Linked DNA regions of Homo sapiens: regions 1 and 2 are each linked to region 3. Evidence: fine-mapped QTL for protein levels in blood plasma. A gene starts in region 3. Each other region holds a variant in brackets. All regions are shown on one strand. Distances are between the middles of the regions.

Region 1 (2,665 bases), 14 kb before region 3:
GGCGCTGCAGGGTCGGGGGCGCGGGGGCGCGGGGGCGCGGGGGCGCGGGCGTGGGTGGAGCTGGCCGGGCTCAGGGGCCTGGGACACGGGGCGGGGCCGCGCCTCTCTCGCTCCGGGTCCCACGCGCCCCGGCCTCCTCCCGGCACTGTCCCCCGGGGAGCCCCGAGGCCCGGCCACACCCAGGGCGCTCCTGAAGCCGCCGCAGCTGCTGTGCGAGGCCGGGCCGACCCGCCTGGGGCGCGTGGGTGGGGCGGGAGCGCAGCCGCAGCCCGGCGGCGACACAGGCCCGGGGCCAGCCGGGGACGGAAAAAGTGAGTGCGCGGCGGCGCGGGGCGGCCTGACGGGAAGGCGGGAGGCGAAGTGCTGACTGCGCCGCGGTCTCTCAGCCGCCAACACACCGCGGACGCCCGGGGACAGCGACCGCTTCCTCCCTCCCCGCCCGCCTTGTCTCTTTTTGTGAGTATCGATCTGAGCTCATGTTCTTTTTAACGTACTCAAAGTGTGTCAATCAATTAGGCTTTTTTTTTTTTTTTTTTTGACAGGGTCTTGCTCTGTCGCCCAGGCTGGAGTCAGTGGCACCATCGTGGCTCACTGCGGCCTCCACCTCCGGGACTCCAGGGATCCTCCCGCCTCAGCCTCCCGAGGAGCTGGGACCACCGCACCTGGCTAATTTTAAAATTTTTCCTTAGAGACAGGATCTCACTTTGCTGCCCAGGCTGGTCTCAAACTCCTGGGCTCAAGCGACCCTCCCGCCTCGGCCTCCCAAAGTGCCACCGTGCCAAGCCTCAGTTAGGTTTTTAATTTTAATTTGGCATTGTTTGATGCTCAGACTGCTGCCGTGTCATTTTCACACGACAGCAAGTTGGGGACAGCGAGTTGTTCTGTCCTGCGCGTGTGTCCCCTCATGGTCTTGAGTGACCTGACCCTCTGTGGGGAGCCCTGAGCCTCCTCCCTGCTCCCGCGGCCCCAGCTCTCAGCTGATGGAGGCTCCGGGGCGGGCTCAAGCCCCCGGCCGGCTTTGGACGGCTTTGCCGTTGCCGAGCCAGCGCCGTGAGCTCGTGGGCTCTGCGTCTGCACATGTTTGCCGGTGACCTCTGGGAAGTGTTTCGACGAGGATGGGGGTTGAGGGGGCAAAGGGCAAGTGCCCACCGC[C/T]TACCAGACAGCACCGGTGCGTCTCCAGCTCGGCTTCCCCGCCAGCCCCTCAGGCCTGCTCCCTGCTGCCTCGCCAACAGCCGCACCGTTGTCAGAGCTCTGTCAGCCTGGTGGATGTAGTTTCAACTTGTATTTTTGTTGAGAGAACCTGAACAACCTTTCATTGTTTAAGGGATATGGGTATGCACGCAGGCACTGCCGTATATACATATATTGTAGATACACACGTCCGCACACCTGTACACACACACCCACACACATACCCCTGTGTATGTACATACACACATTTGTATGCACACATATGTCTACACACGTGTAGACACGTGCACACACAGGCTCACGCACACACATTTTCTCTGAGCTGTTGGGTTATGTCTCCTGCACTTTCTCGTGTATTTTTGACCTTGCTTTTTCCAGACTCTTAGATCTTCCTACGACTGGCATATTCGCTCTTTTGTGGTGGTGCAAACATTTTCCCTCAGTTTGTTTATGATTTTTTTTGCCAAGCTAAAGTTTTTTGTTTTCCAATATATGGAGTTCAGTGTATCAGTCTTCTCTTTAATTGTTGCCTGATGTCCTTTATTCATTGGGAATGCCTTCCCCTCCCACACTGCAAGAATGCACCCACGGTTTCTTGTTTCTTGTAGGGTTCCTTTTTTTTTCTTTTTTGAGACGGAGTCTTGCTGTGTCGCCCAGGCTGGAGTGCAGTGGCATGATCTCGGCTCACTGCAAGCTCCGCCTCCCGGGTTCACGCCATTCTCCTGCCTCAGCCTCCCGAGTAGCTGGGACCACAGGTGCCCGCCACCATGCCCGGCTAATTTTTTGTGTTTTTAGTAGAGACAGGGTTTCACCGTGTTAGCCAGGATGGTCTCAATCTCCTGACCTTGTGATCCACCCGCCTCGACCTCCCAAAGTGCTGGGATCACAGGCGTGAGCCACCACGCGCGGCCAGGGTTCTTTTTGTATGCTTTTCTCTCTGCTGCATTTGGGATTTTGTGCATATGAGTCTAACTTAATACTTTTCCAGATGGCTATCCCTATCCCTGGGCAGTTGGTTAAAAAGTCGTTTTTCCCCTCACTGATTTGGGTCGCAGGGACTGGGCCTGTTCCTGTGTCTTCTGGTGCTTATCCCACCCTGTTTTCATTACAGTAAGTTTCCCCTGAGCTCATAAAGCTGGTCCTCTTTCACTTTCTTTTCATGGTTTTTTTGGCTGTTACTTGCTTGTTAATTTTTCCATATGAGCATGGTAGTTCCAGAACTGTGGTTTTTACTGGGATCGTATTAAATTTACAAATTGTATCGGAAGAACGTGCATGTTTGCAGCTGTGGCGCCTCTTCGGGGCCCGGGGGTCAGGGTGCCTTTGATTGAGTTCAGCCTCTGCGGCAGCTTTCCCACGTTTCTGGCTAGGTTTATGCCGGGAGCATCTTCTCTCTTGCTGTCCTAGATGAAACATCGCCCGCCACTCCGTCTCCTAGCGCACTGTGCTGTGAATGGGGTGAATGGGTGTATGA
Region 2 (2,665 bases), 35 kb before region 3:
TGTGTGATTTGCTATGCAGCCTCGGGAAACAGCTGTGTGGCCACCAGGGTCCCACCCTGCTCCCGCCTTCTGGGCTCCAGGACGCAGGTGTGGGACCCCTCACCATCCGCATGGCCCTCTGCTGTGCACTCTCCTTCTCGTTCGTGTCTGTGCTGCATTCTGGTTGGTTTTCCTTGGCTTTTTTTTTTTTCTAGTTCACGAATTCTCTCTTTGCTGTGTTTAATCAGCTGGGAGTTACTCTCTTGCTCCCTCTCTCCCTCCCCCATCCTTTCTCTGTCCTTGTCTCTCTGTCTCTGTGTCTGTCTCTGTTTCTCTTTGTGTTTGTGTCTCTCTCTGTCTCTGTGTCTTGGGCTGTCTCTCTTTGTGTTTGTGTCTGTCTCTTTCCGTGACTCTGTCTCCCTCTGTGTCTCTGACTCTGTGTCTCTGTCTCTCTGTGTCTCTGACTCTGTGTCTGTCTGTGTCTCTGACTCTGTGTCTCTGTCTCTCTGTGTCTCTGACTCTGTGTCTCTGTCTCTCTGACTCCGTGTCTCTTCTCTGTGTCTCTGAGTCTGTCTCTGTGTCTCTGTCTCTCTTTCTCTGTCTCTGAGTCTGTCTCTGTCTCTTTGTGTCTCTGACGCTTTCTGTCCCTGTCTCTCTCTGTGTCTCTGTCTCTGTGTCTCTGTCTCTGACTCTGTATCTCTGTCTCTCTATGTCTCTGACTCCGTGTCTCTGTCTCTCTCTGTGTCTGAGTCTGTCTCTGTGTCTCTGTCTCTCTTTCTCTGTGTCTCTGTCTCTGTGTCTCTGTCTCTCTGTCTCTGACTCTGTGTCTCTGTCTCTCTGTGTGTCTGTCTCTGTGTGTCTGTCTCTGTGTCTCTGTCTCTGTGTCTCTGTCTCCCTGTGTCTCTGTCTCTCTCTCTGTGTCTCTGTCTCTCTCTTTCTCTGTGTCTCTGTCTCCCTGTGTCTCTGTCTCTCTCTTTCTCTGTGTCTCTGTCTCTGTGTCTCTCTCTGTCTCTGTATCTCTGTCTCTCTGTCTCTGACTCTGTGTCTCTGTCTCTCTGTGTCTCTCTCTGTGTCTCTGTGTCTCTCTCTGTGTCTCTGTCTCCCTGTGTCTCTGTCTCTCTCTTTCTCTGTGTCTCTGTCTCTGT[GTC/G]TCTCTCTGTCTCTGTATCTCTGTCTCTCTGTCTCTGACTCTGTGTCTCTGTCTCTCTGTGTCTCTCTCTGTGTCTCTGTGTCTCTCTCTGTGTCTCTGTCTCCCTGTGTCTCTGTCTCTCTCTTTCTCTGTGTCTCTGTCTCTGTGTCTCTCTGTCTCTGTATCTCTGTCTCTCTGTCTCTGACTCTGTGTCTCTGTCGTGTCTCTGTGTCTCTCTCTGTGTCTCTGTGTCTCTCTCTGTGTCTCTGTCTCCCTGTGTCTCTGTCTCTCTCTTTCTCTGTGTCTCTGTCTCCCTTTGTGTTCTTCTCCACGACGTTCTCTTTGTCTGACTTTCTGCTCCTGCCGCGTGCGCAGAGGGGCGAGGAGGAAGCATTTGCGCATGCGCAGAAGGCTCGCTCCACGCCACGTGCTTCAAGCGCGTCGTTCCGTTTAGTATGAAATAAAGGCCCGCGGGGTGGAGAACGTGTCTGTTTTCCAGATGTGGAGATCAAGGCCCGGCAAGTCCTCTGTTGTTGACGGTTCTCAGGTGGTAGAAACGATCTCGCAGCGCACCTGCGTGGCTTCCGAAACCGTTGTCTCAAGCGTGTTCCACTTGATGTGATTAAAAAAGTTCTCGTGGCCCCAAGCACCTGCTTTACCTGCTCAGACCAGAGTGTCGTTCCGTCCCATTCATTCCGCAGCTTTCCCCGAACGCACACAAGTGAAATGTAAATGTCAGTGTGTGTGTATCTATCTCCCGTTTCTCCCAAAGCGAGACCGTCAGCTGCTATCACTGCACAGCGATGCGGGGACCAGGCCCGGTCCCTTCAGCCCGGGGCTTCGGCCCCCGGCGTTGTCTGACCCTCGTGCTCAGCTGTTCCTGCTTCTTCAGGTTCCCAAGGCATCCCCAGCCAGCTTCCCTCCTGCAAACCCCCACCCTGGGAGCTTGACCAATGACATCGACATCTTTCAATACTTGAATCCTGACTACTTCTTCTTCTTCTTCTTTTTTTTTTTTTGAGATAGAGTCTCTGTCTTCCAGGCTGGAGTGCCGTGTTGTGATATCTGCTCACTGCAACCTCGGCCTCCCGGGCTCAAGCGATTCTCCTGCTGTAGCCTCCTGAGTAGCTGGGATTACAGGCATCTGCCACTACGCCTGGCTAATTTTTGTATTTTTAGTAGAGATGGGGTTTCACCATGTTGGCCAGGCTGGTCTCAAACTCCTGACCTCAGGTAATCCGCCTGCCTCAGCCTCCCAAAGTGCTGGGATTACAGGTGTGAGCCACTGTGCCCAGCCTCATTCTTCTTCTTTTTTTTTTTTTTTTGAGATGAAGTCTCACTCTGTCGCCCAGGCTGGAGTGCAGTGGCGTGATCTCTGCTCACTGCAATCTTCACCTCTTAGGTTCAAGTGATTCTCCTGCCTCAGCCTCCTGAGTAGCTGGGATTACAGGCACGCACCACTATGCCCAGCTAATTTTTTGTAGTTTTAGTAGAGACAGGGTTTCACCACGTTGGTCAGACTGGTCTCAAACTCCTGACCTTATGATCCACCCACCTCCG
Region 3 (2,655 bases):
GGGGGTGTCAGGGCGGCCCCAGGGGTGCCCCTCATCTTGTCCTCCCAGTGGTGTCACACCCCGGTACCCAGCAGGGCCCAGAGGGACTGTCTTAGGCTTGGCCTGGGTGAAACCACCCTCCCCAGGCCTTGGCATCCCCAGGTGCAGGCTGGCTGGGCACAGAGGGCCAGCCGGGCACAGAGGGTCCAGGAGCGGGCTGTGGTCACAGTGTACACAGAGGGCCCAGGGTCACGGGCAGCCCAGGAAGAGGCTCCCTCTCTCCTCGATCCGGGAGAGTGAGGCCAAGGCCTCCCCCACGGATGGTCTGAACAGGGCTCGGGGAGAGCCCTGGAATCTGGGCAGAGACCCAGGCGGGCACAATCCCCACCCAGGAGGGATCCTGGAGACAGAAGAACTGTCCTCACTCGAACAGGTACACTTTGGATATAATGAGAAAAATATCACCAGCTCATCTAAACTTTGACGTCGTAAAGCCAAGGTTAGTCCCACATGGGGCTCATCCCATCCTTAGGAAAACTCGAGTGAGGACCAAGGATGCCTGGGCAAGGCAGAGCCGCCACGCAGACTCCCCACGGCCAAGGTTTGGGGTTCTGGCCAGCCTGACCCGTCATTCTACAGAAACACGCAGCCCCAAGGACCGGCTGAGAGGGGACAGAGGTCCTGCCTGCCCAGGAGCAAAGAGGGGACTTGGGCCAGGGGAGGAGTTGGGGCCCAGAGAGGAACCCAGGAGTTCGAGCTGCCCAAAGCCACACAGCTCAGGGTAAGGGGCAGAGCTGGGGGCCAAGGCTGGGCCTGCCACAGCACCCCCCGACCTGCCAGGGACTGAGAGTGAAAGGTCCCTCCAGACCCCTCGCTCCGGGACCCCTGGGCTGCCAGGGCCAGGCCCGCCTCAGCACCCCCCGACCTGCCAGGGACTGAGGGTGGAAGGTCCCTCCAGACCCCTGGCTCTGGGACACCTGACCGCCGACCCCACCTACCTAAGAACCATCCTGGCCGCCAGCCCAGTTGTAGCACCGCCCAGACGACTGGCCAGGGCGCCTGTGGGATCTGCATGCCTGGAGCAGCCCCACCAGAGTGCCGCCTTCTCCACTGCTCAGGCGGAGGTGAGCGGAAGGGAAACTGTCCCAGGTCAGGTTGAAGGGAGGGTGCCCGCCCCTTGCTCCCGCCCCCTCTTCCTCCACATCCACGTGGGCGAGAGTGACAGAGGCAGTGCTGGGGGAGGAGGGGTGAGGAGGGGGTAGGACTGGGGAGAGGGTGGGGGAGGGAGAGAGAGACAGAGACAGGGAGACAGAGGAGATGGGGAGGAGGTGGGCCCGTGGCCCCCACGCCCTACCCCGTGGGGGTCTCCCCAGCTCAGGGCCCCTTCCTCCTCTGTGTCTCTGCTCACTGCTGTGGCCTCTTTCCATATCCCGCCCGAGCTGCCCCTCCTGAGGCTGCCGGGTGGGGGCAGGCCCTTCTCCTCCCCCATCCCCCCCATCTCCCTGGGGGCCGGGCCTCCCTGCCTGGGGAAGGTGGGTGGCCCCCTCTGGGCTCAGGTTCCTGGGCTGCAGTGAGGGGTGGGCTCAACCCCACTCCCATTCTGTCGGAGCCTCTGGGAGCCTCCCGGCTGCCCACAGCCTCTGCCCCTGCTGGGGGCAGGTGCCTGGCCTCTGCCTTCCCGGCCCATCCCCCTTCGCTGGGGCACAGGTGACCCTACTGAATGACAACTGTCCATGGCTAATCGGCTCCCCCTCAAAGCTTCCACCTTGTGGATGGCCTCACACCATGGCCACAGTTCCAGATCTTTCCACCGTGTGATGCCTGCAACAGCCTGACGGGGGGGCTGGGGCGGTGGCAGGGGCTGGCTGTGAGGCTGACCTCCCCTTCCAGCCTTGACCTTCTTCCCCGGGGCCCTGCCCTCCAGCCCACTCGTGCCAGGGTGGGGTGGTTCAGGGGGTCCAGTGCCTGGGCCTGGCTGGCGGCCCGGCGTTTGTGAAATGGCTTGCTTATCTCCTTGTATTCTGTGCTGAGCATTTTATTACAGCGAATGGAAAACAGGAGAAATGAAACTGCTGATATTAGTGATGAGATGCGTCAGGCTCATCAGCTTAAAATAACCGAAGCGAGGCTAGAAACCGCCTGACAGCTGGCGCGGCTGCCTGGCTCCGAGAGACACTCGGCCCGGCTCTGAAGGGAAAACATTAAAGCACCGAAACAGTGGAAAAAGAGCATCAAAGATGATGTCTGCGAGGCGCGGCCACGGCGAGGAAGCTCTCGTTTATGAACAAAGGGCCACTCCCGGGTCTCAGAGATGTGAGGCTGTGTGGGTGGCTTGGTGGGGAGGTGGGGGGGGCCCAGCTGGCCAGGTGGGCTTGGCGGGGGGCCCCCAGGGAGCCTGGCAGCACCCACTGTGCTGCCAGACAGCTAAGGTGGCCCGCAGCAACTGTCTCCTGGCACACCCACCCTTGTGCCTCAGGGGCTGGGGCTCTGGGGCTGGAGAACTGTTGGTTGGTAGGTGCCTCCATAGCCCTGTGCCTCGCCCAGGCAGTGGATAAGTGGCTAAGCTGCCCCTGCTGGCTGTACTTGTCCTGAAGGCAGATTCTGGACAGAACCTCCCTCTGCCCCCAGCCCTGTAGAGCCTTGTTCCAACCTCTGTTGAATGCTGTCTCTGTTCCA

The links. PIP is the chance, under the fine-mapping model, that this variant and not a neighbour inherited with it causes the effect. Protein levels are from antibody-based Olink assays in UK Biobank. Linkage for the fine-mapping came from a reference panel and not from the study's own genotypes, which makes the PIPs less certain.
Region 1: its variant is fine-mapped to the plasma level of the PDCD1 protein (UK Biobank, PIP above 0.99).
Region 2: its variant is fine-mapped to the plasma level of the PDCD1 protein (UK Biobank, PIP above 0.99).

The regions. Positions count from the first base shown.
Region 1 is chr2:241,844,023-241,846,687 of GRCh38, forward strand. It overlaps LOC124905350 (a long non-coding RNA gene), which reads left to right and starts at 145. Exons shown (of 2, transcript XR_007088410.1): 1 at 145-456; 2 at 543-2,458. The variant C/T (reference allele first, on the strand shown) is at 1,153.
Region 2 is chr2:241,822,432-241,825,096 of GRCh38, forward strand. No RefSeq gene overlaps it. Among named protein-coding and RNA genes, the nearest start is that of NEU4, 15 kb to the left of the region's middle. The variant GTC/G (reference allele first, on the strand shown) is at 1,125.
Region 3 is chr2:241,857,786-241,860,440 of GRCh38, forward strand. It overlaps PDCD1 (programmed cell death 1), which reads right to left and starts at 1,109. Exons shown (of 5, transcript NM_005018.3): 1 at 978-1,109. The coding sequence starts at 1,053. It overlaps LOC124908032 (a long non-coding RNA gene), which reads left to right and starts at 1,287. Exons shown (of 2, transcript XR_007088436.1): 1 at 1,287-2,292. RefSeq lists an enhancer at 315-1,277.